3 separate regions of the Homo sapiens genome follow, and all the other regions are linked to region 1. Evidence: fine-mapped expression QTL. A gene starts in region 1. Each other region holds a variant in brackets. All regions are shown on one strand. Distances are from middle to middle.

Region 1 (2,765 bases):
TGGCACGTGCCTGTAGTCCCAGATACTTGGGAGGCTGAGGCAGAAGAATCACTTGAACCCGGGAGGCAGAGGTTGCAGTGAGCCGAGATGGTACCACTGCACTCCAGCCTGGGCGAGAGTGCAATGAGACTCCGTCTCCAAAAAAAAAAAAAAAAAGAAAAAAAGAAAAGTAAGTGGGGCACACGATTCAGGCCTAAGCTAACCAGACCAACCTCATTCCTGATGGTTGTTAATGTTTCAGATACGGGCCCGCAGCCCTACGTAGAGAAGAGGCCAAGGTAGAAAACATGAATCTGAGGTAAAAAGAAATGAGGTACTTGTTTGCCTCATCAAGCCTCTCAATTAAACTAACCTTGAAGCCTGTCTTACCTTTGGACTTCTAGTGATGTCACCCGGTAAAGCCCATTTGTTTCAGGACGTAAGAGTTGGGTTTTCTGTGACTTGGAACCAAAACCATTCCAATTTACAAAATGAGCAACTTTAATATTACCCATGAGAAATACTTCATTGGTATATGCTCTTTCCTAGCGTTTTTGAAAACTAAACTAGGTGGGTGAAAAGTATATCTTTGCATGAAACTTTTTCATTCCAGAAAACATTTTGTCATCTTGATAATAATGGCCAATGCTACTATATCCAAATTTTTGTCTTTTTTTTTTTTTGAGACAGAGTCTCGCTCTGCCGCTCAGGTGTGATGGCGCGATCTCGGCTCACTGCAACCTCTGCCTCCCTGGTTCAAGCGATTCTCCTGCCTCAGCCTCCCTGAGTAGCTGGGATTACAGGCATGCGCCACCACACCTGGCTAATTTTTGTATTTTTACTGTAGACGGGGTTTCACCATTTTGGCCAGGCTGGTCTCGAACTCCCGACTTCCAGTGATCCTCCTGCCTACCTCAAAAAGCAACTTGATAAATCCACAGGCTCGGTATATTTTAAAAATTCTTTTAAATACAGTATACTTTTCTCTTTTTTTCCAGAATTAACCATGAATCGCACACACAGCCAGAGGCTTTTAACCCGAGAACGGACAAAGGGGCCTGCTTGTGCAATACAATTATTTTTAATGGTTAAACAAATTAATACATAAGACCAGCTTTACCTAATATAATAATAACGAACCAAAGTTTACAACAGACAAGAAAAGCACCAGCTGTCCCCGCCACCCCGGAGCGATCTCCAAGGGGACGCGGGAGAGCGCCGCGGGGGACGCGGAAGTCTGACGTCACAGGAACTGGGGGCGGGGCGGGGAGGCCCGCACACCCTATTGCGCATGCTCCCGCCTCCCCGGCCGCGGCCTGGCGCAGTGCGCACGCGCGCGGGTGGGCGGGTTTGACTGGCCGTAGAGTCTGCGCAGTTGGTGAATGGCGTTGGTGGCGGGAAAGTTGAGTCTCTCCTGCGCCGAGCCTTCGGGGCGATGTGTAGTGCCTTCCATAGGGCTGAGTCTGGGACCGAGGTGAGAGCCGCCGGGTTGGGAGTGAGGGAGATGGGAACAAGGCCGCCGGTGGGCGAGGGGAGCCGAGGGAACCCGGGGGATTGGGAGGCTTGGGGCGGCGCGGCCTGGCCGGGCTGGGACCGGCCTCTCGGCCTAGACGCCCGCGATGCTGGCACCCTCTGCCACCTCTCACCTGGGCCCCAGGGGTCCGCCCCTGGGCAGCCTGGAGTCCTCCGAGGTGGGAGGACCGGGCGGAGGTGGAGGAAGTCTTTCTTTGGAAGACTTGCTGCCTGCCCAGATCGATATAACATACGAGGTCTCTCCTCCCAAGAGTTATGGTCTAAAAACCCCTCACAAATTAACTACCGTTGGAAATGTCAAGCTATGCAAGAAAAGCTAGAAAAGGGGAGGGGTCGCCCGTTGGAGCATTTGGAGCTTTTCTGGAACAGGTGGTGTTTGCGGAGGTTGCCTCACCTCCCTGTAGCCCACGTGTCTCTGCTTAGGGCAGCTGGCCCTCGCCACCCCCTAGTATTCGTTTCCAGCCCAGGTAGCTCCAGAGCCACACAAGCCGGTGGATGCCCCTCAAGAATTGAACCAAGTGTCCAGCACTTACTGTGTGTCAACTACGTGTTAAGGGATAGGAGTAAGCAACAAAAGACATAACTTCTGCCATTAAAGAACTAGTAAGGGAGGCTGCTGTAAGAATTACAGTATTGCACAAAAGTTTGTTGTCCATTAGAGGGGCGGGCATCATGGAAGATGCAGGAGGAGATGACTGAAGTTTCAAGGACCATTTGAAATGGTTTGGCAAGGAGAGGATGACATTCAGAGCGGAGACAGTCGGGAGTACATGGATTCTGAATTAAGCAAGAGCATGGCTAATTTAGATAACTGCAAGTATTTCTGTAAAATTGGAACAAAGGGAGTGAGGGACAATAGGTTGGGAAGTAAGCGCTGAGCAGTGGGCAGGGTATGAAGGATCTTTTATGCAGATGAGAGAGGAAGCAATCTCAAAAGAGTCAGCAAACATTTTTGTGGAGGGCCATGTGGTAAATATTTAGGCTTTGCAGGCCATGCCGTTTCTGTCACAGCCACTCAACTCTGCTGTTCTAATGGGAAGGCAGTCATAGATAAATAAAGGCACATGGCAGCGTTCCAATAAAGCTTTGTTTTTTGGATTTAGCCTGCTGGCCATAGTTTGATAATCCCTGTTCCTAAAGAGTAGAACCACTGCTTAGTATAAGAACGGCTACAGTTATAAACCATAGATATATATATATTTAAAAATATATTTATATATAATATATATTTAAAAATATATTTATATATAATA
Region 2 (2,765 bases), 29 kb after region 1:
GGCCAAAAGTTTTCTTTTTTTTTTTTTTTCTTTTTGAAACAGTCTTACTCTGTCTCCCAGGCTGCTGGAGTGCAGTGGCACAATCTCGGCCCGCTGCAGCCTCTGCCTCTTGGGTTCAAGTGATTCTTCCACCTCAGCCTCCCAGGTAGCTGGGATTACAGGCACCCACCACCACGCCTGGCTAATTTTTGTATTTTTAATAGAGACGGGGTTTCACCATGTTGGCCAGGCTGGTCTCGAACTCCTGACCTCAAGTGATCCACCCACCTCGGCCTCCCAAAGTGCTAGGATTACAGGCCCGTGCCCAGCCCTAAAGTTTTAAACTCTAGGGGAATTAACAGTATTTCTTTACAGAATGGATTTGTTAAACTAGCACAGTAAAAGTAAAGACTATTCTGTTTCTAGGCTGTTGAATCAAAGTGATTTTAGCAATTAAACTTTGTATTAATTTACCACCAATATTTCTTCACAAAGGAACTTTTAAAAGATTATCTCAGAAAGTAAATCTGAGAGGTAAGAAGTAATAATGAGTAAATGGTAAGTACTTGAGTAAATCTAAAGAAATATTGATAGTAAGGCAATCCTAAGCAAAAAGAACAAAGCTGGAGGCATCACGCTACCCAGCTTCAAACTATACTACAAGGCTACAGTAACCAAAACAGCATAGTACTGGCACAAAAACACACGTAGACTGATGGAACAGAATAGAGAATTTAGAAATGAGACCACACACCTATAATTTTTTTGATCTTCGATGAACCTGACAAAAACAAGCAATGGGCAATGGATTCTCTATTCAATAAATCGTGCTGGGATAACTGGCCAGCCATATGGAAAAGATTGAAAATGGACGCCTTCCTTATGCCATATACAAAAATTAACTCAAGATGGATTAAAGACTTAATGTAAAACCCAAAACAGTAAAAATCCTGGAAGACAACCCAGGCAGTACCATTCAGGACATAGGCACAGGCAAAGATTTCATGACGAAGA[C/A]GCCAAAAACAATTGCAACAGAAGCAAAAATTCACAAATGGGATCTAATTAAACTAAAGAGCTGCACAGCAAAAGAAACTATCAAGAGAGTAAACAGACAGCTTACAGAATGGGAGAAAATTGTTGCAAACTATGCATCTGAGAAAGGTCTGAAATCCAGCATCTATACGTAATTTAAACAAATTTAGAAGAAAAAACCACCCCATTAAAAAGTGGGCAAAGGACATGAACAGACACTTTTCAAAAGAAGACATCTGTGGCCAACAATCCTATGGAAAAAAGCCCAGCATCACTGATCATTAGAGAAATGCAAATCGAAACAACAACGAGATACCATCTCACACCAGTCCAAATGGCTATTATAAAAATGTCAGAAAATAACAGATGCTGGTGAGGTTGTGGAGAAAAAGATATGCTTATACACTGTTGGTGGAAATGTAAATTAAATTAGTTCAGCCATTGTGGAAGACAGTGTGGGGATAAAGACAGAGATACCATTCAACCCAGCAATCTCATTACTGGGTATATACCCAAAGGAATAGAAATCATTGTTATAAAGACACATGCACGCGTATGTTCGTTGCAGCACTGCCCATCAGTGACAGACTGGATTAAAAAAATGTGGTACATACACACCAGGGAATACTATACAGCCATAAAAAGGAACAAGACTGACTGGGCGTGGTGGCTCATGCCTGTGATCCTAGCACTTTGCGAGGCCGAGGTGGGTGGATTGCCCGCGCTCAGGAGGTCAAGACCAGCCTGGGCAACACGGTGAAACCCCATCTCTATTAAAATACAAAAAATTAGCTGGGCATGGTGGTGCGTGCCTGTAGTGCCAGCTACTCAGGAGGCCGAGGCAGGAGAATTGCTGGAACCCAGGAGGTGGAGGTTGCAGTGAGCTGAGATCGCGCCATTGCACTCCCGCCTGGGCGACTCCATCTCTAAAAAATAAAAAATAAAATATAAGGAACAAGATCATACCTTTGCCAGGGACATGGATGGAGCTGGACGCTATTATCCTTAGCAAACTAACATAGGAACAGAAAACCAGATACTGCATGTTTTCACTTATAAGTGGGAGCTAAATGATGAGAACTCCTGGATACAAAGAAGGGAACAACACACACACACACACACACACACACCCTCTCACAGACTTAGAATACGTGGCAAGAAAAGCATATAATTTGACATTAGGAGCAGAAGAATTAGTGTGCTAAGGTCCTTGCATTGTCCGGGAGAAGGGGAAAAGTATCAACATTAGACATTGATAAAGGGTCTGCACCTTTTGATTTCTTAACCACTCAAGGATAGAAAAGGGGCATAACTTTAAAATGAAACAGGAAAATGGTGGGCTGATTTTTAAATTTAAAAGAACCGAATACAGCAGGACAGATCCAAAGCACAGAGGAGATGGTGTATTTAACTCCATCCACACCAATCATTACATTACATGCAAAGGGACTGAGGACTCCAGTTAAAATGACAGTTTTAGGCTGGTTTTTAAAATACATATTTGCTGTTTTATTTTTAGAGACAAGGTCTCGCTCCGTTGCCCAGGCTGGAGTGCAGTGGCATCATAACTCACTGCAGCCTCGAACTCCTGGGTTCCAGTGAGCCTCCACCTCAGCCTCCAAAGTAGCTGTGATTACAGGTGTGTGCCACCTTGCCTAGCTGAGTCCCTTGAATTGATAAAAGGTATATACAAAAATCCCTCAGTAAACATTAGTTAATAGTGAAATATTAGAAGTGTCTCTTTTAAAATCAAG
Region 3 (2,765 bases), 22 kb after region 1:
CCTCGACCAACCCCCGGGCTCAGGTGATCCTCGCACCTCTGCCTCCTGAATAGCTGGGACCACAGATGTGTGCCACCACACCAGACTAATTTTTGTGTATTTTGTAGAGATGGAGTTTTGCCATGTTGCCCAGGATGGTCTTGAACTCCTGGGCTCAAGCCATCTGCCCACCTCAGCCTCCCAAAGTGCTGGGATTATGGGCGTGAACCACCACGCCCAACCTGTAAACATATTTTTAATGCTTTTTTGGATAGGAGTTATTCAGTACCATGTACCAATTCATTACTTCTTTACTTCTATAATGATTATAATCTGCAAATTCAACATATTTGTTATATAATTGGTAGGCTGGTACCAAGATGATAGCTTTTTTGGCTTTTCCTTTCTTTTCCTTATTTTGAAGGATCTTTAGATTCAGAACTCTTTCTGACAATCTGTTACCCAAACTCCTTACAGCGTTCTATTTGTAAGAGGAACTGTCAAGGCCAAATCATCCAGATTTTCTGATTTAGTTTAATATCTTCAAGTGCCAAACCTTAGGGATTTTTTTACTGCGAGTTGTCACGTTCCATAATTTGGCTGGACAAGGATGCTGTAGCAGCCACAGAAACATATGAGACGGTGACTTCAAGTACATTGAAAAGGATGATGTCCCTTCTGTAGGACATAATATTTGATTACAGGTTTTGATCTTGAGGATCAAACAGTAAATGTTTATAAAATCAGTAAAACTGATTTCAGTTCATCATTAAACATATTTGTGAGGAATTTAGTTCAAGGACCTTAATGATAATTCATGTGTCTCTTGCAAGTTTGCAGTGTCTTCCCGGTTGTTATAAAAGCCTTTTTTATACCTGCTTTGCTATTAATGTGTAAAAGAAAAAGAGTATCTCTTAGGCAGGGATTTAACCTTCAACTTCTTTGCCTCAGTTTCACTCGTCGGGAATCCACTCTGTCCTTGCTGTTACTCTAGAAGCAGTGAATGCCTAGGCTAGTGCCGTTGTCTCCTGTCTTCTGAGTATCTCAGTTTTAAAAGTTTGGTTCACAAAATGAGATGTTAAATGTGCTTTTGCGGACTACACAATTAATGCTCCAAGGTCACTATTTTGGACAAACTCAGTGATCTTTTCCCTGCTGTTTTTCATTGTCATGACTTTTCTGCTATATTTATTATTTAGTAGTTTCATTTTCTTGAAACATTCTCTTTTGCCCTGTAATGTTTTTCTTCCTGGTTTTCCTATTAAATTTCTGTTTTAGCTGTCTTCTAATGCGTCTTCTAACTGTGGATATATCTCAAAAATTTAGTTTTGGCCTTAATTTTAGGTCCATAATACCCACCCATCAAAGAGATTTTTGTTTTTTCTCTATTATTTCTGTGTGGATTACTCCCAGTCTGCTATAACCAGCCCCTTATTACCTACCATCTTGAATCTTTTTTTTTTTTTTTTTTT[G/TTTG]AGATGGAGTTTCACTCCTGTTGCCCAGGCTGAAGTGCAATGGCGCAATCTGGGCTCACTGCAACCCTCTGCCTCCCAGGTTCAAGCAGTTCTCCTGCCTCAGCCTCCCAAGTAGCTGGGATTACAGGCACGTGCCACCATGCCCAGCTAATTTTTATATTTTTAGTAGAAGCAGGGTTTCTTCATGTTGGCCAGGCTGGTCTTGAACTCCTGACCTCAGGTGATCCACCTGCCTCAGCCTCCCAAAGTACTGGGATTACAGGCGTGAGCCACCGCGCCCGGCTTACCATCTTGAATCTTAAATTTTAGTGGCTGTAGGACATTTTCATTTTGTGACACCTAGAGATAACATTTTAAAAAACCCATACCATTTTGAAAGCTAAATTTTTGCTGGAATACTCAATGTGAATTATGTGAACTAAAAATTTCTACTTTGGGTTGGGTGTGGTGGTGCATGCCTATAAGTCTAGCACTTTGGGAGGCTGAGGTAGGTGGATCACTTGAACCCAGGGGTTTGAGACCACCCTGGGCAACTCAGCAAGACTCCATCTCTACAAAAAAAATACAAAAATTACCCAGGTGTGGTGGCACACACCTGTGGTCCCAGCTACTCAGGAGGCGGAGGTGGGAGGATGGCTTGAGCCTGGGAGGCGGAGGTTGCAGTGAGCTGAGGTCACGCCACTACACTCTTGCCTGGGCGACAGAATGAGACCCTGTCTCAAAAAAAGTCTACTTTATGTCTGTATTTGATTTGTGCAGGTACTTCCAAGCCTATCTTTGAGAACTTTTAAGTCACCACATTAGGTTTACCTGCTGTATTAGTCCATTTTTACGCTGCTGATAAAGACATACCCAAGACTGGGCAATTTACAAAAGAAAGAGGTTTAATTGGACTTACAGTTCCATGTGGCTGGGGAAGCCTCACAATCATTGCAGAAGGCAAGGAGGAACAAGTCCCATCCTACGTGGATGGCAGCAAGCAAAGAGAGCTTGTACAGGAAAATTCTCCCTTATAATAAGCATCAGATCCCATGAGACTTACTCACTATCACGAGAACAGCACAGGAAAGACCCGCCCCCATGATTCAATTACCCCCACTGGGTCCCTCCCACAATACGTGGGATTTCAAATGAGATTTGGGTGGGGACACAGCCTAACCATATCACCTGCAGAACTGAGGCCCTCACCACGCTAAGTGTGAGCACCCTGTGGTCTCTGGGCAGCAGGCTCCACACCTGGCAGTTTGCTCCTCTTGCTTTGCCTCCTATGTTGGTCCCTGTGTCAACCCTGGTCTAGGACTTTCTTACCTGCTG

Alleles and levels. Alleles are on the strand shown, and positions count from the first base shown. SD is a standard deviation of normalised expression in the study named.
For the expression in visceral fat of the gene that starts at base 1,353 in region 1, allele A in region 2 goes with a higher level than allele C (moderate effect, 0.55 SD a copy in GTEx).
With allele TTTG in place of G in region 3, the expression in CD4 T cells of the gene that starts at base 1,353 in region 1 is higher (large effect, 1.4 SD a copy in BLUEPRINT).

What was found. PIP is the estimated chance that this variant, and not a neighbour inherited with it, causes the effect.
Region 2: its variant is the best candidate, but not a certain one, in a credible set for the expression of XRCC2 in visceral fat (GTEx, PIP 0.64).
Region 3: its variant is the best candidate, but not a certain one, in a credible set for the expression of XRCC2 in CD4 T cells (BLUEPRINT, PIP 0.79).

What each region holds. Positions count from the first base shown.
Region 1 is chr7:152,674,729-152,677,493 of GRCh38, reverse strand. XRCC2 (X-ray repair cross complementing 2) reads left to right here and starts at 1,353. Exons shown (of 3, transcript NM_005431.2): 1 at 1,353-1,453. The coding sequence starts at 1,415. RefSeq lists silencers at 1,107-1,576, 1,877-1,966 and an enhancer at 1,032-1,876.
Region 2 is chr7:152,645,678-152,648,442 of GRCh38, reverse strand. It overlaps XRCC2 (X-ray repair cross complementing 2), which reads left to right. Exons shown (of 3, transcript NM_005431.2): 3 at 1-2,765. Among named protein-coding and RNA genes, the nearest start is that of XRCC2, 29 kb to the left of the region's middle. The variant C/A (reference allele first, on the strand shown) is at 994.
Region 3 is chr7:152,652,884-152,655,648 of GRCh38, reverse strand. The region is part of intron 2 of XRCC2 (X-ray repair cross complementing 2); the gene reads left to right. Among named protein-coding and RNA genes, the nearest start is that of XRCC2, 22 kb to the left of the region's middle. The variant G/TTTG (reference allele first, on the strand shown) is at 1,452.